Linked DNA regions of Homo sapiens. The protein of the gene in region 3 interacts with the protein of the main gene of each other region in a pairwise test. Each region holds a gene or a part of one and is shown on either strand. Other genes may lie near its edges.

The links. The genes of interacting proteins can lie anywhere in the genome.
Region 1: the proteins of LPL (region 3) and TMEM185A interact in binary tests that used the Homo sapiens proteins (3 or more experiments, as listed by UniProt).
Region 2: the proteins of LPL (region 3) and SLFN12 interact in binary tests that used the Homo sapiens proteins (3 or more experiments, as listed by UniProt).

What each region holds. Positions count from the first base shown.
Region 1 is NC_000023.11:149,607,777-149,614,805, forward strand, and holds part of TMEM185A (transmembrane protein 185A), read right to left. Parts: intron 3,688-7,029; coding exon 3,511-3,687; intron 1,059-3,510; coding exon 851-1,058; intron 1-850.
Region 2 is NC_000017.11:35,415,485-35,422,513, reverse strand, and holds part of SLFN12 (ribonuclease SLFN12), read left to right. Parts: coding exon 1-524; intron 525-2,132; coding exon 2,133-2,240; intron 2,241-7,029. UniProt on the Homo sapiens protein: Ribonuclease which is part of an E2/17beta-estradiol-induced pro-apoptotic signaling pathway.
Region 3 is NC_000008.11:19,942,242-19,949,270, forward strand, and holds part of LPL (lipoprotein lipase precursor), read left to right. Parts: intron 1-5,938; coding exon 5,939-6,099; intron 6,100-7,029. UniProt on the Homo sapiens protein: Key enzyme in triglyceride metabolism.

The DNA of each region.
Region 1 (7,029 bases), on a different chromosome or scaffold from region 3:
GGTCAGTTTTGAGTGTCAACTTGGCTGGGCTATAGTACCCAGTTATTTAATCAAACACTAAGCTTGCTGTTGCAGTGAAGGTACTGACTTTGAATAAAGGAGACTACCCTCCATAGCATGGGTGGGCCTCATGCAATCAGGTGAAGGCCTTAAAAGCAAAAACTGTGGTTTCCTGGAGAGGAAAAAATTCTGTGCCAGGACTGCAGTGTCAACTCCTCCTAGGTCTCCAGCCTGTTCACCTGCCCTGGAGATTTCAGACTTGCCAGCCCCACAGTAATGTGAGCCAGTTCCTTAACTCTCTTTATACATATATCTGTATCTAACCTATCAGTTCTGTTTCTGTCTGATTGATACAGGATGTGAAGCTGGGAGAAGGCTGATGTCCTGGGTGAAAAGCTAGTGTTCTAAGTGAAGAAAGAAAAATTGTTATTTCCATCATCTTTTGTTGCCTTGTTGTCTCATGATGTAGAGTTGGTAATGATCAAGCTCTTCCTAACAAAGGGTAAGAAATTGACATCTGAATAACTGAGCAAAATATTTTACTTTTGAAAACATTCTTTTTTTTTTTTTTTAAGACGGAGTTTCATTCTGTCACCCAGGCTGGAGTGCAATGGTTCAATCTTGGCTCACTGCAACCTCCGCCTCCTGGGTTCAAGAGATTCTCCCGCCTCAGCCTCCGGAGAAGCTGGGATTACTGGCGCATGCCACCACACCCGGCTAATTTTTGTATTATTAGTAGAGATGGGGTTTCACCATGTTGGCCAGGCTGGTCTCAAACTCCTGACCTCAAGTGATCCACCTGCCTTGACCTCCCAAAGTGGAAAACATTCTTAAATATATGAAATCTCACCTCTAGTGACCTGTCATGTCGAAAGCCCCAAACGCAAGCTGCAACAGACACCGGGGAAACAAAGAACAGCGGCATGAAGACCAGGAGCCAGAAATGGCTTCCTCTCTCGATTCTGTCACAGACCAGAACTTCAAACATCAACAAGAGCAAGTGGATGCCCACTGCAATCAACATGGCTTTAAACTCCACACACGTTTCTCCTTCTGCTCTAAAAAAGGGAGAGAAGAAGAAAACACCCTCAGTTCAGAATCTCCACTATAAGCAAGCAGTTCAGGGCAAATACCAACTTATATTTATACTTTGAATTTTACTTGAAAATTTGACAAAAGCAAAGGGAAATCAGGTAGAAAGCTAACTTAAACCTAAGCTTTGGTAGGCAATCTCTGAAACATCGAAGAACTACTACATAATACAAAATGAACATTACAACCAAACCAGAATTTAATGTTTTAACCGTATAAGGATATTCTCAAAAGTAATAGCCAGTTCTTATTTCCCTGACAATGTACATAAACACTTCTGTTCACATCTTTAAATTCAACAACAAGAGTTACTTCCAAGATTATTCAAGCTGATTTGCTTCTGCTGCTAAAACCAGGCAAATACCCCTTAAGTCTCATGATCCTCATTTTTCAAGAAACCATGTAAACCACCCTTCACACAATATTATAAAAATAACTCTAGTTCTATGAACAAGTGCCAGTTATATTTCAAGATAGTAGTAACTATTGTTAGGTGCTATTTTTAAATGCAAATAAAACGTATAAATGATTTTCATTTTCCTTTCTATTCCATTAAGATAAATTAACACCTGCACATGAAAGAGAAAGAAGAACAAGAGTTAAAACTGTTCTCAAACAAAATCAGTTTAATTAGCTAAGTATCATGCACAATAACCTTAACAGATCTACAATTGAGCAATGGTAAGGCCGCTAATCAGGAAAAGGCTCTATAATGCATCTGAAAGGCCTACAATGTTTATTCAAAATACAGATGAACATTTATGATATACATGTATTGTGGGTGACAAATACACCGGAAGTTAGATCATAGAGAAAATGCTATCAGAGGTTATTCCTGTAGGACCCAACCATGTTCCACTGGTTAATGTTAACATGAGAATGACCACGCCTGTACATTCCTTACATTCAACCCCACATACACAATTCCTTTCCTTGCTCAAAACATCTTAAATAAGACCAACAAAGAGAAGTTTGAATATATTCTAAATATCAATTAGTAGAACCTAAATGTTTATTTAACTTTGCATTCTTTGAGAAGCAATTAATATTAGATATCTGAAAATATCTCATAAAAAAATAAAACACATACAGCCACACAGGTCATCAATCTTTCAAAAAAAATCTAAGAACTCTGAAACAGCTATACATGAATGTCCCTCACCTGCCAAGGCTCTCTGTGTAACTGTTTTACAGTTCTTAGACATGTATGTGATATGTAATTTACACAATCTGAATCATTTTCATATTTAGTAAACAAAAATTTAAAAAGTTGATGTAGTGGCCGGACGTGGTGGCTCACACCTGTAATCCCAGCACTTCAGGAGGCCAAGGCGGGTGGATCACCTGATGTCAGGAGTTCAAAACTAGCCTGGCATGGTGAAACCCTATCTCTACTAAAAATACAAAAAATTAGCTGGGCATGGTGGCAGGTGCCTGTAATCCCAGCTACTCAGGAGGCCGAGGCAGGAGAATCACTTGAACCCGGGATGTGGAGGCTGCAGTGGGCCGAGATCACACCATTGCACTCCAGCCTGGGCAACAAGAGCGAAACTCTGTCTCAAAAAAAAAAAAAAAAAAAAAAAAAAAAAAGGTGCGGTAGTTTCAACTTTACACTTTTCCCACATGAGCAGCTGCCTTCTGGGAATTCCTGTACTCCTCATTTTCCCAGTGGAGGTTCATAATAGCCTCCCAGTCTTAAGTCCCCCTTTTTCCCTTTATGTAGTTACAGTCTCTGTGGCAGAGAAGGGAAAGACTCTCGCAGGTCCCAGCAACAAGCAGGTTGCATGCTGGCGTGAGCCAACTCCCAGGAATTTGGGCCAGCGGAGGCATCCAAGAGCAGGGAGGGCAAGAGTTGGAAACGGTAAAGGGTACCCCTCTCCCCTGCCCCCAAAGGCTCTGCTTTCCTTCTCGGCATCCAATCTTTGACTTTCCTCATTCCCCAGCTGCTGTCTCAGGGACTCATGGTCTCCTGGTCAAGCCACCTCCCCTACACTGCTAATAGTCCTAAAGCTCTGGGACTAGGAGGGTGGGACAAGGGGAGCCCCAGTTCCAAAACTGTATTGGAGAAAGATCTTTCATGACCAAACATAATATGAGTGTCTTTTCCTAAAAACAGGGTGGTTTCATGCTGCTTAGTCTAGTATGGCATACCAGTTCTGTATTTTGGGTGCATTTTGGATTATATAGGCATCTGTGAGCTGGCTGGCAACTTACCCCCAAATGGCACTGCTTTTGTAAGAAAATACATACCAAAGACTAAATTTTCAAAAACACAGAAGAGATCTGTTAGCTTATACTATAGTTCTAAGACCCCAGATAGGTAGAAAATAAAATGGTCCTTACTTCATCAAAAGTGAGAAAAGTCAAGATATTGCTCCCTCATGCTAGAGACCAATGGGTTGTATAAAGCAGTATTACCGATATTGAGGATTTCGTGCCCAGACTCCAGTTCCAACTGAGGCTCCAACAATGACCATTAACTTCCACAGCCATATTGGAGCAAAGACAGCCCAGTAACTCCACTGTATGATGCCATCCAAACGAAGGGCCAGCAGCACAGAGAACAGCAGCAGACAGGCATAGATGAGGAATTTACTAGGAGAAAAGTAAAACGATTAAGAAGGATTCACTTTTACAAATATGTGATACTGAAATGGGGAGTAATAAGAGCCACATTTGTCAGCATGTAAAAGGAGTCACTAACTCAATAATCATTTATTGAAAAGGTCTATGGGGCAGACATAATGTGTTGGGAATAAAAGAAACATAAAGAAGACTAAAATAAGTCTCCTGCTTTCCAAGGCTTCCTCATAGAAGGAAGACCACACAGAAACATATAATACAGCACAATGTTTGTGATGAGAGCTTGGAAGAGGAAATACAGACTGTGTCTGAGGAGGCACTCAGAAGCAGAGATGTGGTGACCCTAGAGCTGGTTCCAGAGGGCAAGTAGGAAGCTGCCAGGCAGGAAAGCAAGTGAGATGAGGAAGTATTCCAGGCAGAAGGAACTAGCTATACCAAGACACAGAGACTGGAAAAGGCTGACATGCTCTGAAAATGGTCAAGTTCTATCACTAACTGATTCTATTTCTAAAAAGGCAGCCATCTGTCATATTCATATGGCATGAACATTTTAGTGTATGTATTATACTTTCCATGAATGAATAAATTACACATACACACATGCTCACGTCTCATATAAAAGGGAATTGCTACAGAGGATGTCCTTGAAATAATTAGAAATTATACTCTTGAGGACCTCTATTTCCAGCCTTGACTTAATAATAGGAATATAATTTACCTTCCCGCCTAAATAAGAAGCTTGATACAGTCTACAAAAGAACAGTTTTCAGACATTGACAACAGGCAGTGGAGAACAGGTGAGAAGGAGGAAATAAAGGAGGTAAACCCTACTATTGCCCCAGTTTGCAGATCAGAGGCAGTTTCCAGGCTGCAGCAAGAAAACAGTTAAAACTCAACCCTGTCAATAACTATATTAAATATAAATGGCCAACTGAAAGACAAAGATGATCAGATTGGATAAGTAAGCAAGACAACTATATGCTGTCTGTAAGAATCCCACTTTATCTATCTATAAAGACACAGATAGATTAAAAGCAAAAGGAAAGAAAAAGTTATACCAAATAAACACTAACCAAAAGAAAGCTGGAATGACTATATTAATATCTGTTTAGTCTTCCATTGCTGCTGTAACAAATTACCACAAACTTAGCAGCTTAAAACAACGTAAATTTATTATCTCACAGTTCTATATGACAAAAGGCGAGACGGGCTTGGTTGGTTTCTCTACTCAGAATCTCACAAGGCTGAAATAAAGATGTCTGTTGGTGGAATGCTTATCAGGGGACTCTGGCAGAATCTACTTCTAAGCTCATTCAGGTTGTTGGCAGAATCCAGTTTCTTGTGGTTGTAGGACTGAGGTATGTGTCTCTTTGCTTGCTGTCACGCAGCAGCTGATCTTGCGATAGTAGGGGCCTCTCCTGGGTCCTTGTAAATAGGCCCCTACATCTCAAAGCCAGTAACAAGCTATAGCATATTCAATCTTTCTCATGCTTGGGATGTTTTCTCACTACTTCTGCCATATCGCTTCTGCTTCCACTGAGAGAAAGTTCTCCGCTTTTAAGAGTTCATGTGATGAAACTGAGTCCACCTGGTTAAGCCAGGCTACTCTCCCTATTTTAAGGTCCATAACTGTGGTTGGTAGGCAGAATTCTAAAGAAGTTTCCCAGGATTCCTGTCCCCTGATTATTCAATCAAACACTAATCTGAGTAATACTGTGAAGGGACTTTGCAGATGGAATTAAGGTTACTAATCAGCTAACTTTACAATAGGAAGATTATACTGGATTATCCAGGTGTGCCCAGTGTAATCACATAAGCCCTTAAGAAAGCAGAAGAGTAAGTCAGAGAAATGTGGTGGAAGAGAGATGAGGCAGAAGTCAGAGAGATTCCAGACTTGAGAAGGATTCAGCCTGTTACTTCTGGCTTTGAACATGGAGGTAAGGAACCATGAGCCAAGGAATGCAGGCAGGCTTCAGAAGCTGAGAATAACTCGCAGCTGACAGCCAGCAAGGTAAATGGGACCTCAGCCCTACAACCCCAAGGAACTAAATTCTGACAATAGCCCAAATGTGCTTGAAAGCAGATTAATCCCTGGAGGCTCCAGAAAGGAATAGAGCCCTCCTGACACTTTGATTTTGACCCTGTGAAACTAGGCAGAAGACCCATCTGAGTTGTGCTGTACCCGGACTTCTGACCTAAAGAACTGAGAGTAATTTGTCATGGTAACAGCAGAAACGAATGCTAATAAATATAGCTTCAAAGTCCCCTTTGCCATGTAAAATAATAACATATTCACAGGTTTCAGGGCTTAGGGCCTGGGTATCTGTGTATTTGTGGGGGTGGGGCATTCTGCCTACCACAACATAAGACACAGTATATTTTTGAACAAGGACTATTTCCAGGGACAAATAGAGGTAGTTCATAATGATAAAGGGGTCAATTTGTCATATGCCTAATAACAAAGTTTCACAATACATGTAGAAAGTACTGATCAATCTAAAAGGAGAAATAAAAAAATCAAACTGTTATAAATGGAAATTAACATTCCTTTCTTAGTAACTAATAGAACACATAAACAGAAAATTACTAAGGATATATATGATTGTAGCAACACTATCAACCAACTTGACCTAATTAATATTAATGAGTTCCTCCCAACAAAAGCAAAATACAGATTCCTTTCAAACACACACGGAACATTCACCAAGATAGATTGAATTCTGGGCCATAAAACAAAGCTCAACAAATTTAAAAGGACTGAAATCATACAAAGTAAACAAGCACAATGGAGTCAAACTAGAAATCAACAATAGAAAAATATCTGGAAAATTCTCAAAATACTTGAAAATTAAATGCCACACTGCGAAATAATCCATAGGTCAAAGACTATGAAGAAAATTGAAAAATATTTTGGACTAAAGGCAAAAACACAATATACCAAAATTTGTGAGATACACTAAAGCAGTACTTAAGGGAAATTTTAGCATCAAATACTTACATTAGAAAAGATATCAAGTCAATAATCTAAGATTCTATCTTATGAAACTAGAAAGAACATGGAGGTAAGGAACCTCCATGTAAGAAACGGAAGGAAATTTGTAAAAAGTAAATGGAAAGAAGAAAATGATAAATGTAAGCACATTAATCAATAAAATACAGTAAAAAGGGATTAGAGAAAAAAATCAATGAAACTAAAAGCAGTTTCTTTGAGAAAGTAAGAAAATTGGTAAATCTACAGCCAGAATAATCAGTAAAAAAGAGTAGGCTCAAATTACTAATATCAAGAATGAAAACAGGGATATCACTACAAATCCTAATAATACTAAAGGGATAAGTAGGGGATATTATAAACAA
Region 2 (7,029 bases), on a different chromosome or scaffold from region 3:
AGAAGAAAATAACATGAAGGCCTTGGCCGGGGTTTTTTTTGATAGAACAGAACTTGATCGGAAAGAAAAATTGACCTTTACTGAATCCACACATGTTGAAATTAAAAACTTCTCGACAGAAAAGTTGTTACAACGAATTAAAGAGATTCTCCCTCAATATGTTTCTGCATTTGCAAATACTGATGGAGGATATTTGTTCATTGGTTTAAATGAAGATAAAGAAATAATTGGCTTTAAAGCAGAGATGAGTGACCTCGATGACTTAGAAAGAGAAATCGAAAAGTCCATTAGGAAGATGCCTGTGCATCACTTCTGTATGGAGAAGAAGAAGATAAATTATTCATGCAAATTCCTTGGAGTATATGATAAAGGAAGTCTTTGTGGATATGTCTGTGCACTCAGAGTGGAGCGCTTCTGCTGTGCAGTGTTTGCTAAAGAGCCTGATTCCTGGCATGTGAAAGATAACCGTGTGATGCAGTTGACCAGGAAGGAATGGATCCAGTTCATGGTGGAGGCTGAACCAAGTTGAGAGCGGGGGATTCGCAACAGGAATGCATTTGGCTTGGGTGGCAGGGAGGTTTTCTCTATGGGATCTGGGGCAAGATCAATAGTCCTCAAATTTCAGCACCTAAACTATTAATCCCTGGTGGATACAATCAATAGTTCCCTGCCTCGGCCAGGCGCGGTGGCTCACGTCTGTATTCCCAGCACTTTGGGAGGCCAAGGCGGGCGGATCACGAGGTCAGGAGATAGAGACCATCCCTGGCTAAGATGGTGAAACCCCGTCTCTACTAAAAATACAAAAAATTAGCTGGGTGTGATGGCACGTGCCTGTAGTCCCAGCTACTCAGGAGGCTGAGGCAGGAGAATCGGTTGAAGCCAGGTGGCGGAGGTTGCAGTGGGCGGAGATTGCGCCACTGCACTCCAGCCTGGGCAACAGAGCGAGACTCCATCTCAAAAAAAAAAAAAAAAAAAAAAAGTTCCCTGCCTCTTGTTTTCTTCTATACCCTTAGAAGAAGATAGATATTTCATAAAATAAGCACATCATCTACTTTTAGTAGCCCTACCTGGTGCAAAAACCCAATTAAACCTGGAAGTTTCTTCCCTACCACGTCTATACTAGTTTTGAAGGAAACCCCGTTTAATCCTTTTCCTTTTTGTTTCTGAGCTCTATTTCAGTAAGTAACCATTGCTTTCTTTCAGGAACATTTGCCTCTTTTACTTACTTGCTCCTTCATGCTTCTTGTCCCCTTTCTATTTATTTATTTATTTATTTATTTATTTATTTATTTATTTATTTATTTTGAGACGGAGTCTTGCTCTGTCACCCAGGCTGGAGTGCAATGGCAGGATCTCGGCTTACTGCAACCTCCGCCTCCTGGATTCAAGCGATTCTCCTGCCTCAGCCTTCCGAGTAGCTGGGATTACAGGTGCCCGCCACCACGCCCAGCTAAATTTTTGTATTTTTAGTAGAGACGGAGTTTCACCATGTTGGCCAGGCTGGTCTCGAACTCTTGACCTCAGGCAATTCACCCGCCTCGGCCTCCCAAAGTGCTGGGATTACAGGCGTGAGCCACCATGCCTGGCGTCCCTTTCTATTTATTTCCTATAAAACCGCTTCCTTTTTCTTCTCACATTTGTGAGCCAAGTAGTAGCCCTAATTTGTACTAGTAAGGAAGGAATAATGCTGGTATTTTCTCTGCGTTTGGGAAAAGAAAGCCTCAAATGAAATTGGACCAGTACTAGCAATTGGACCAGTACTAGCAGCTTATAAAATGTCTGAAAATGTAAGCTTCTTCCTCAGAATCTGCACAAAAGTCAGCTTTCCTTCACTAGCCATCACGTCTCATTTTAACTGCTTTAAAAATAAACCCAATTATATGGTAATGTATTAAATTACTATTAATGCATTTTTACTGTTAATTTTCATTTGAAATATAGTGTGTCAGTGGCATCAAAAGTTAATTTTGCAATTTGTATCTGACCTAAGAATCTAACCACAATATCTAACATTAATTTTTTTTTGGAAAACAGAATCAGTTACAAGTAGACTTTTAATATATAATACTATGCATTAGTTAGTTGGGGTCTCCCTTCTGCGAAATTAAGAATGTGATATTTTTGTTTTTAAGAATTTTCCAGTTCATATGAAGAGGTGATCTCTCAAATAAATACGTCATTACCTGCTCCCCACAGTTGGCCTCTTTTGGAATGGCAACGGCAGAGACATCACTGTCCAGGTAATTTCATTCTGGCTTCTTCGGATTTGTTAGTGTGACTGTAGTCAAACCTCTTTCTCTTCAAACCAGCTCAGTCTTGAAATTTGCTCTGAAAGCACATTCTTGTGTTTATGAGAATTCTTTGGTGTTTTAAGTCATTGAATCTGTCAAATCCTATTTCTTTATATTTGGGTTAGAATTTTCTTGGTGCAATACAAACTCGTTTACTTGAAAGTAAGAGCAACCCAAGTCAGTTTAGTTTAAACAAACAAAAAAAGAAAGCATATATATCATGTCACTGAGCAGTCTAGATTGAGGCCCACCTTCAGGCATAGCTATGTTCAGTTACTGAAGAAACGCCATCAGTACTCAGGATCTCTGATTGATCTATCTGTTTTTGTTGTTGTTGTTGATGATGGGCAATTGAGTTATTTCCTGCTTTCTGTGACATGAACAGTGTTACCTTGAACATTCTTAGTCGGTCTTCTAGTGCATATGTGCAAGATTTTCTCCTGGGTGCCTAAGTAGGAGTAGAATTGTTGGCTCAGGAGGTGTGTGAATATTCAAGTAATAAGATAATGCCAAATTGTTTTGAAAGTAGATAGGTCATGTTACTCCCATCAGCAATATATTAGAAATGCCACATCTTCTCCAGTTGTCAAATTTTTCTTATTTATGGTTGTCCTTCTCTTGACCTCCTTCTTCTCAATCAAATGTGTATAAAATGGTATGTCTTTGTGATGTGCATTTCCCTGGTTATTGATTGGGTTGAGCATCTCTCCATATACTTACTGGCCATATATATTTCATCTTCTGTGCAGTGTCTATTTTGTCTTTGACCATTTTTCTAATAAGCTTTGTCTTTTTCTTATTGATTTATAGGAGTAATTTAGAGATTCTAGAATAAAATCCTCTTTTAGTCATAGGTATTAACGACTACCAAATGTTTTCTCCAAGCTGGTGGCTTGCATTTTCTCTTTTCTTAAGGTATACTCTCATAAGTAGTAGTTTTAAATTTTAATGTAGGCAAAACTATCATTTAAAATGTTGCGGTTTAGTGCTCTTTGTGCCTTGCATAAGAGATCCTTCTATACACTAGGATTATAAAGATATTTCTTTTAATTTTCTCCTAAAAATTTTAAAGTTTTGCACTCAACATTTAACATGTAAATACACAATCCAGAGGTGGGCGGATCACTTGAGGCCAAGAGAACAGCCTGGCCAACATGGTGAAGCCGTGTCTCTACTAAAATACAAAAATTAGCCAGGTGTGGTGGTGCACACCTGCAGACCCAGCTACTCAGGAGACTGAGGCACAAGAATCATTTGAATCCAGGAGGCGGAGCTTGCAGTGGGCTGAGATCACACCACTGTACTCCAGCCCAGGCAACAGCGTGAGACCTTGTCTCAGTAAGTAACAAACAAACAAACAAACAAATAAATAAATACACAATCCATCTCAATAGACAGTAATGTAGCATGCTATTTCATTTTATTCCATGTGGATAACAACTTTCCCAGCCGCAATACTGAAAAGTCTCACTTTCACCATGATCTGCCATGCCACCTTCATCATATTACTAAGTACAATTCACCTTTGAACAAAAGGTGCAGTCGAAAATCGGTGTATAACTTTTGACTTTCCAAAAAGTTAACTACTAATAGCTTACTTTTGACCCAAAGCCTTACCAATAACGTAGTCAATTAACACATATTTTGTGTGTATCATATACTATATTCTTACAATAAGTATCATATACTATATTCTTACAATAAAGTAAGCTAGAGAAAAGAAAATGTTATTGAGAAAGTCATAAGGAAGAGGAAATATATTTTCTATAAATTAGGTGTAAATGGATCATTTAGAGGTCTTCGTACTCATTGCCTTCACGTTGTGTAGGCTGAGGAAGAGAAGGGTTGGTCTTGCTATCTTGGGGTGGCAGAGGTGGAAGAAGATCTTGGCGTAAGTGGACCCATGCAATTCAAACCCATGTTGTTCAAGGGTCAACTGTATATCTATAGATAATCCTCTTTCTAGAATCTCTATTATGTTTCCTTGATCAAATTGTCTGTCCCTGCCACTGTAATGTTATACTAAGTATCGATATCTGGTAGGGTAAGCCCTTTAGTTTTTCTTTGAGAGTGTCTAGGCAATTTTTAATCATTTAATCTTCTATACACACTTTAGAATCTGCTTAAATGCCAAAAAAACTTTTGGGATTTTGATTTGCAGTTACAGTGCATCTCTAGATAGATTTGGGAAGACATGGCATATTTATATCAGTAAGTTGTATCCTTGAGTATAGGAAATCTTTTTACTTATTTATATCTTCTTTAATGCCTTTATAGTTTCATAAATTTCTGTGTACACATTTTGTACATCTTTTATTACACTTATGTCTAGGTTCCTTTTATTTTTGTTGTTGTAAAGATATTTTTTTTAAAAGTTCCATTTTCTTGTTTATTGCTAATGTGTAGAAATGCAGTTGATTTTTACATACTGAGTTTATATAAGGCCACATTGTTAGGTTTCCTTATTATTTTAAATAATCTGTCCATAGATTATTTACATTTTGTATAAACAAATATGCAGATCATAAAATGTTTTGTCTTTTCCTTTCCAATCTTTCTGCCTTTAATGTCTTTTTTTCTTGTCCTAATGAACTGAAGAAAACTTTTAGACAATTCTTAATGCAAATAGTCTTAGTTCAGATTTTAAAGAGAGTGTGTCTATGGCTTTCCCATTTAAATTGAGGTTTGCCCAACATGGCACATGTATACCTATGTAACAAACCTGTGCATTGTGCACATGTACCCCAGAACTTAAAGTATAATAATAAAAAAAAGAAATTGAGGTTTGCCTTAGGTACTTTGAATATACCATTATCAGGCTAAGGAAGTTTAATGATATTTCTAGTTTACTAAATGTTTTTTCTTTTTTTATCATGGATGAATACTGAATTTTATCAAACACATTTTCTACTCCTGTTGACATGATTAAATGTTTTTAATATGTTGATTGGCAAATGATGTTTAATATTTTCTATTAAGCCTTTTTTGCATTCCTGGAACAAACTCAGTTCGGTCTTGCAGTATTATCTTTTTTATGCATTTTTATTCAGCTGCTAATACTTAATTTAGAATTTCTGTATCTAAATCCATGAGTGACAAGGTCTAAGAATAGTTTTCTCTCTTTCTTTGTCTAGTATTTGTATTAAAATTGTGCTGAACTCAGAATGAGTTGGGGATTATTTCCTCTTTTCCTATCCTTTGAAAAAATTTATATAAGATTAGAATGATATGCTTGAAATTGTGGTGGAATTTGCCTGTAAAATGGTTTGTCTTCCTTTTGTGGGAAGACTGTTAGTTCTTTTTTCAATCAGGAACTGGCTCTGTCACCCAGGCTGAAGTGTAGCGGTGTGATCATGGCTCACTGCAGCTTCAAGCTCTTGGGCTCAAGTGATCCAACTGCCTCAGCCTATCAGGGCTCTAGGATTACAGGCTTGAGCCACTGTGCCTGACATATTTCTGGTTTTTTAATAAAAGGGTTGCCTACTCTTTCTGTTTCCTTCGGTGTTAATTTTGGTAAGATATTTTTAAGGAATCCTAAATTCAATAGCTGGCATCTCAGTATTAGTCTGACTTATATTTCAGATCCTTATTTCAGGCTATTTTTATTTTCTTGTGAGAACAAAGCAGATTGGTTTCAAAAATTTATTTACTTTGTGTAGTAAGTACTTTTAAAATGTATGCTTTTTCTAGGTATCTTATATGTTAATTTTTAAAATTTTTATTTCACTAGTTTTTGGGGAACAAGTGGTTTATGGTTACATGAATAAGTTCTTTAGTGGTGACTTCTGAGATTTTGGTGCAGCTATCACCTGAGCAATGTACACTGTACCCAGTGTGTAGTCTTCTATCCCTCATTCCCCTTCCACCCTTCCCCTTGAGTCCCCAAAGTCCTTTGTATCATTCTTAGTCTTTGTGTCCTCATGGCCTAGCTCCCACTTATGAGTGAGAACATACAATATTTGGTTTTCCATTCCTGAGTTACTTCAGTTAGAATAATGGTTCCCACCCCATTCAGGTTGCTGTGAATGCCATTATTTCATTCCTTTTTATGACTGATAGCATTCCATGGTGTATATATACCACATTTTCTTTATCCACTTGATGGCTGATGGGCATTTAGGCTGGTTCCATATTTTTGGAATTGCAAATTGTACTGCTATAAATGTGTGTGCAAACATCTTTCTCATGTAATGACTTATTTTCCTCTCAGTAGATACCCAGTAGTGGGATTGCTGGAGCAAATGGTAGTTCTACTTTTAATTCCCTAATGAATCTCCACACATTTTTCCACAGTGGTTGTAATAGTTTACATTCACACCAGCAGTATAAAAGAATTCCCTTTTCAGTGCATACTTGCCAACATCTATTATTTTTTGACTTTTAATTATGGCCATTCTTGCAGGTGTAAGATGGTCTCATTGTGGACTTAATTTTCATTTCCATGATCATTAGTGATGTTGAGCATATTTTCATGTTCATTGGCCATTTGTATATCTTCTTTTGAGAATTGTCTATTTATATCCTTTGCCCACTTTTTGATGGGATTCTTTGTTTTTTTCTTGCTGATTTGTTTGAGTTCCTCATAGATTCTGGATATCAGTCATTTGTCAGATGCATAGGTTGCAAATATTTTCTCCCACTCTGTGGATTGTCTTTTTACTCTGCTATTTCTTTTGCTGTGCAGAAGCCTTTTAGTTTAGTTACTTCTCATCTATTTATTTTTGTTTTTGTTACATTT
Region 3 (7,029 bases):
TTGTTCAAGAAAATGCCTTGCAACTTACAATATTTTGCAGCTAGTTTCTTCCGTGACCACCACAAAGACTGCATTGACTTAAATATGAAGATGTTCCAGCCATCAAAATGATGGTTGGTGATGATTTTGGATCACAAAGTGTAAGGAAAGTATTCAAGACATGAGTATCATGATTTTTTAAGGTCTGGATGAAGAGACCATTTGGATTTACTAATAAGGTAAATTCCAACTTTTATGGCAATAAAAACAACAAAAACACTTATCAGTGTAAAGCTTTGGGATCATCTATCCATTAAATGAGTTTGTCACCACAGTGAACTAAATACCTTTTATCAACAGAGACTTTCTAACCTGGGAGTAAAATTCTTGTCACAGTGCTTTTGTCACATTCTGTCTTTGCAAAAGTTGAAGGCTCCAATAGTTTCTGAAGGACTAATAGGATAGGGTTCCAACTTACTCAGAGGCTAAGAGTTTGAAATTTACTCTGAACGATGTCTGTTCACTAGACTGCGTGACTGCAGTTTGCTGTCTTGTGGCCATTTTAAGATTGTCTGTGTGCACTGACACCATTTGCGTACTCAACAACAGGTATCTACTAGGAAGGAAGGAATGGATTATCTTAGGTGCTATATATATATGTAAGTTCTGCCGGAAGTGAGCCTATTAAACTTGTGCCAATTCATTCCTTTTGCTCTTCCCAGTCTGTGCTCTCAGAATGATCAAATGCTATCTAAGTAGTGTGGTGATTTTGACTGTTTGAATGAATAAACGAAAACGTCTCCCACCATTATTTGACAGTAGAATAGAACAAAGATGACCCAGTTGGCGTGGCCACACTGTGTCTAATCCAGCCACCTTGCTCACAGCACTCAACCCACTTTGGTGTGTGCGCTCATCTGTATTTTCGTAAATGTTGAAGTCTCTTTCTATGCAGTCAGGTAGGGGTAATACCATTCTGGCTTGGATTAATTTGAGTGTAGTACAAAGTTTAGAGAAGCTTTTAAGTAGCATGAAAAGTCAGATGCTTTCGGAGGGATGGTGGTGAATGTAGGTAAATGGATCTGCACTTAGAGATCCTCAACAGCCCTTCATTCAAGATACAGCTATCATGACATCAATAATGTACCTTTGAAAAAAAATTGGCTGCAGAATTAATTACGGTGAAAAACAGTATAGGAGTTAGCACTTACATTTTAACTAAAAAGAATAGCGTCCCCATGTTTATTCAGCCCTCCCTCCAATAAAACAATTGTTGGCAAAGTAATCATGGACTTTCATTGTGTTAGTTTGAGACAACTGGATGTTTCCATTTGCCATCCTCAGCAACAAGAAGAAAGTAGTCTCAGATTAACCAGGTAAGTATTTTGTATTTCACTTAAAAAATCTTGACTGAAATATGCCTATGTGATGACACTCAACCAAATTATTTCATTAACCAGTCCACAAGATCTCCTTAAATAATGATGGCTTATTCACACTTGATGGTCTCATTCAGTGGGGCAATTTTAATACACATCTCTGAACCTATTTTTTAACCCCTCTTTTTCAGTAGTGTGGAAGGTTAGCCCTAATATTGGAGAAAATTCAGGGTAAAATTCAGATGATTCATACAGGATTTATTTTTCCTATTCCATTAATAAAACAACTTTTATAAAAATAAAAAGTAGGCTGGCACAGTGGCTCACTCCTGTAATCCCAGCATTTTGGGAGGCCGAGGCGGGTGGATCATGAGGTCGGGAGTTCAAGACCAGCGTGGCCAGGATGGTGAAACCCCATCTCTACTAAAAATACAAAAATTAGCCAGGCGTGGTGGCAGGCACCTGTAATCCCGGCTACTCGGGAGGCTGAGGCAGAGAATGGCTTGAACCCAGGAGGCATAGGTTGCAGTGAGTCACGATCGTGCCACTGCACTCCAGCCTGGGTGACAGAGCAAGACTCCGTTTCAAAAAATAATAATAAAATAAAATGAAATAAAGTAAAGCTGCATGTTAGAGAAGTCAAGAGCATTACTTACGTTAGAATATCTGAACAGACCAATCAATTCAGTCTGATCATGATATTGATGTTTTTCTTCACCAAATCGACCACATCAGTAATTCACTTTGTTCTTCGATATCCTACAGACACTGCCTGAGTCGATAACTATGACTATCAGTCTCAGAGAGCAAATGAATTACTGAGGAAGCCCTGTAGGAGTGAGAGAAAAGGGGGGAGAGAGAGAGAAAGGGGTGGGGGGATAACAGGAGAACAGAAATTCCAAAGAGAATTGCATTCTCATTGAGTTCTTGTACCTCATGTCATTGCATAAATGTTCATCTTACTCACGTGATGACTTTGATCTGCCTTTAAAGCACCATCTGCTGCTTTCCTGGGATGCTCAACACTTCCCTCTTTCTAGCAACAAGAATTACCACTCTTCCCCTCTATACATTTATCTTTCTCTACGTGCTTTAACTTCTCAGCCTAATTTCGTCTCTGTGAGTTATTATCTATGTTAGAATAAATTCTTTGTCTTTGTTTACACACTCAGATTTGTAGTTATTTATTTAGGAATTTAGGAATAAAGATTCCATAGTCAGGAAAGGCACAATTTATAACTTGCGTGTTACCCAAAACTCTCCCCTAAGGGCTTAATATGGACATTTCTGACGAGGCCTGATGGGCAGGTGGTACGGTGATGCTAAGTTAAATTCAGAATGAAGGCCTGCCTTTCCTTCCCTCCTTCCTTCCCCTTCCCCTTCTTCCTTCCTTCCTTCCTTCCCTCCATCCCTCCCTCCTGTACTCCTCTTCTTTCTCAATTCTAAGGTGGCCTTAATTTCTAAGGGACATGGCAAAAGACAGTCTAGTTGGATGAGTGCAGTCACTAATATTATTTCCATGTATGGAAAATAACTGTTTCCTTAGTAACAATTGCATCAAATCAGTTCACCTGCTGCCCAATAGCAATCACAGGATGCATTGGGACAAATAAATATACTGACTGCCCCACAGCCACATGGTCTAAGTCAGTTACTGGAGAGCTGACTGAAGTTTGGGAAGCATATTCATCTTACGACACTGAGACATCCTCGGGGGGTTGCAAACACAGGTAGTGTGAAAATTATCAGAACATCCAAGAAAAGGAAAGTTTGACTAAGTGCCGATAAGATTTATGATGTCATGTCTGACATAGAATTGAAACCATCACAGAGCACATAGAGTGGTATATTTTCCTGTCAAATGAAAATCATTTTCTTTAAAAGTGAAATGAAAGTCTCTAAATACAAATTTACTAGAGGATGTGTAAATTTCCTACTTTTCATTACATACTCTGGACCCAACAGAGGGAAATTGGAGCTGTCAGTGAGCCATACATGCAATCTGGTACAGGATCTATGGATTGAATAGACTTTTTTTCATGGAACTACACAAAGCCAGTCTTAGTCATTTCAAAGAAAATTTGTGGTCATTTCAAAACCACCAGCAATTCCAGGGACACCAAGTTGCATAATTCTAGGGGAAAGTGGACTAAAAGTGAATGGCAGCCTCTGGAGTTATACTGAGCATTATTCTTAAAATGTCAATTTGGCAAATAGGTGGTAAGCGAGATCTGTCTGCCAGATTGTTCACATCATCTCTGCTTTAAAAAGATTGATCATAGAATATGTTAAAATAAGACCTGTGGAGAGGAGGTATGAGCTATTTAAGGTGGAAAGGTGTGGGAGAGGGTGAAATTAGTTTTAAATTTTCTAAAGCACTTTTTAACAGGAAAAGAAGTTCTTGGGCACTGAAGGCAGAATTAGATTAAAAGTATTCAATACTCTTCCATTATCAGAGAAATAGTAAAGCTACTAGAGTGCTTTCTGGTTGGGAAGGAAGAAGGCTACCAACATCTTCAAATAAAGATGAGAAGTAGAGCATATTCTTGGTGGATGAATGGATTCACGTGTACTTTTACTATATGCAAATGAAAAGAGCTTTAAAGATCAATAGTTTAGCAAGACTCTTATTTGAATAAGTGATCTTGGAGTGTTTACCCATTGTAACAAAACTCCTTTTCTCATAATTAGAATCATTAAGAAATTTCTCCTACATTTTAGATGACGGAGGTGTGTGTGCACGTGTGTGTGTATGTGTGTGTGATCAACTCATTGCATATTTCTTAAACCACAATATTGTTTAAGGAATTTTAGAAAATAATTACTCAATAGGAAAATGTTGGCCAATCCTCAGATATTTAGATAAGGCTGATTCAAATGCCTATTCTTTCACTGTTCTCACTATGACACTCTTATTTTTATTATTGGCCTGACTTCCGCAGTTATTTTGAAGTTACAGATTTTTAAATTTTGAGTTGAAAAAAAAGAGCAAATTTAGATTAAGGAATGAGAAGTAGTCCTCGCAGCCTCATGAATCTCCTGAAATTTCGAACGGCAAAATCTAAAATCTACAAGTTATTACCTTCTTACAGTAAATAGGTGGGTGTTATGGGTCGTTTTCTTTAACTTCTTTACTTGAAAAGGAATTAAATGATTTCCCTTTAACATAACTTCCCTTTGATTGTGCTCTGCTTCATGAAGTCTGATTTTATTTGCAATATAATTTACTTCAACTATTCACTGTACCCCATGAAGATTCAGCAGCATTTATAACTATTGTCCATAGTTTCAAAAACTAGGTTGTCTTTCTCTTCTCACCAAGTTTGGGATTAACTATGAAGAACCAAAGTGAACCCTTTCAACAACAAGGTTTGCTGTGGTTTTCAAGTTTTGCCTTTGTGTGGAACATTGTAATGACATAGTGGGAAAAGAAATATTTGGGGAGAGAATTAACCATGGCTGATACATAGCACGGGTATTTCTGAACAACCTACTAAATTATTTCTTAGAACATTTTGAAGTATATCTTGCCATAGGAGTGGGAACAGTTTCATACAAAAGCCTCCTCATGCTTCCAACTTTTCTTTAAAAAATTTTTTTTAAATTATTTTATTAAAAATAGAGGCCCGGCCCGATGGCTCACACTGGTAATCCCAGCACTTTAGGAGGCTGAGGTGGGCAAATCACTTGAGGCCAGGAGTTTGAGAACAGCCTGGCCAACATGGTGAAACCTCATCTCTACTAAAAATCCAAAAATTAACCAGGCCCGGTGGCTCATGCCTGTAATCCCAGCATTTTAAGAGGCTGAGGCGGGTGGATCACTTGAGCCCAGGAGATAGCGACCACCCTGGGCAACATGGCCAAACTTCATCTCTACAAGAAATACAAGTTAGCCTGGCGTGGTGGCACGCACCTGTGGTCCCAGCTACTCAGGAAGCTGAGGTGGGAGGATCACTTGAGTTCGAGGGTGCAGTGAACCAAGATCGCACCACTGCACTCCTTTGGCCTGGGACACAGAACAAGACCCTGTCTCAAAAAACAAAACAAAACAAAACAACCCCCCCCCCGCCCCACACACACACAAATAGTGGAACTATAGCACACAAGAGCCATGCATGAGTCAGTGTTCTCCACGAAAGCAAGCTTCAAAGTGGAACTGAGAGACCGGGCTCTGATCCTCACCCTCCCACTAATACCAGGGTAGCCTCAGCCAAGTCACTTAAATTCATGTCTTGAGAGAAGACAGAATTAACTAAGGAATCCCCAAACAGCAGTTCCCTTAGTTGAAATCACAAACGTACACACACATACCCTGACTAAGGAGAGCTTCAAGAAAGGCTGGAAGACTTAGGAGAGGTCAATGGTGACAATCTTAATTCAGAGTTAAGGTTGTCTCTCTGTCAACTTTGCTCAACGTTGGAGCATCTGTTGTTCTCTTGCAATCCACATTCGTTTTCGAAAACACTTCAGAAACAAAAATAGCATCAGCGGTGGTTGCCTGTGAACCTAAAACATATCATTCCAATGAATAAAATCAAGCAACCCTCCAGTTAACCTCATATCCAATTTTTCCTTTCCAGAAAGAAGAGATTTTATCGACATCGAAAGTAAATTTGCCCTAAGGACCCCTGAAGACACAGCTGAGGACACTTGCCACCTCATTCCCGGAGTAGCAGAGTCCGTGGCTACCTGTCATTTCAATCACAGCAGCAAAACCTTCATGGTGATCCATGGCTGGACGGTAAGGGAGGCTCTTTGGGGAAGAGTGGATTGGGGTGGTGAGGTATCCTGACTGGCCTGCCCAATTGTTGGGGACCCAGTGATGGGTCCGCACCCCACATCTCACGTGGATCTCCTTACACTTGAATAAAGACAGTTCTGGCTCAGGTGGGATCTGAAGCCACAGGTTCATGAGAACTCCCCCTAGGCAGTGCCAGCCTTCATTTTAACACTGTACCTGGTTGGTGCCCTTGAGCCAGAGCTTCCTGCGAGGTTGGTAAAGGATGCTCTGCCCAGCTACTGAGCAGAAGATAGGTGATTGCTGTGGGGAACCGGTGGAACCCTGGCATGATCCCGCATCACCCAGCACATTGCCAGGAGAACCTTTCTAAAGAAGACAGCATGGAAGAGTGAGGAGAGGGCTGGAGTGGAGTGAGGAAGTGTGGCGTCCATGCTGGCTTTGCCATTCTCCAGCTCTGTGCTGTGGATCAAGTCACTTGTCATCTCTGGGCCTCCATTTACTGATCTGTAAAGCAGAGGTTGCACTAGATGTCCCTAAAAACACTCTACTTCCAAAATTTTCCAGTTGTAAACTTTAGGGAGCCTTTCTGGAAATTAAAAAAAAAAAGGGCTGGGCAGGGAACTGACATGCTGACATGCCAGATGATTAGAAAAAGTGAAACTGTGATTAAATTTACTTTAAAAAATTGTTAAAAGTCCCCTCTCTAATATGTCACACAGTCACTTTAGATTATGTAGTTCTTGCTTAGTTTGTTTTAAAATGTTTCAATCCCAAGTGAGTAGACTGTGTAATTTATTTAAAAGGATTTGTGTAAAATGGCTTGTTAAAGATATATTATCTATCCATTATGTCAGAGCTTGTGAATATTATAATACTAATTTCTAGTGAGAACTAACTAAAAATAACATTCATCTAGTCCACATTTCTTTT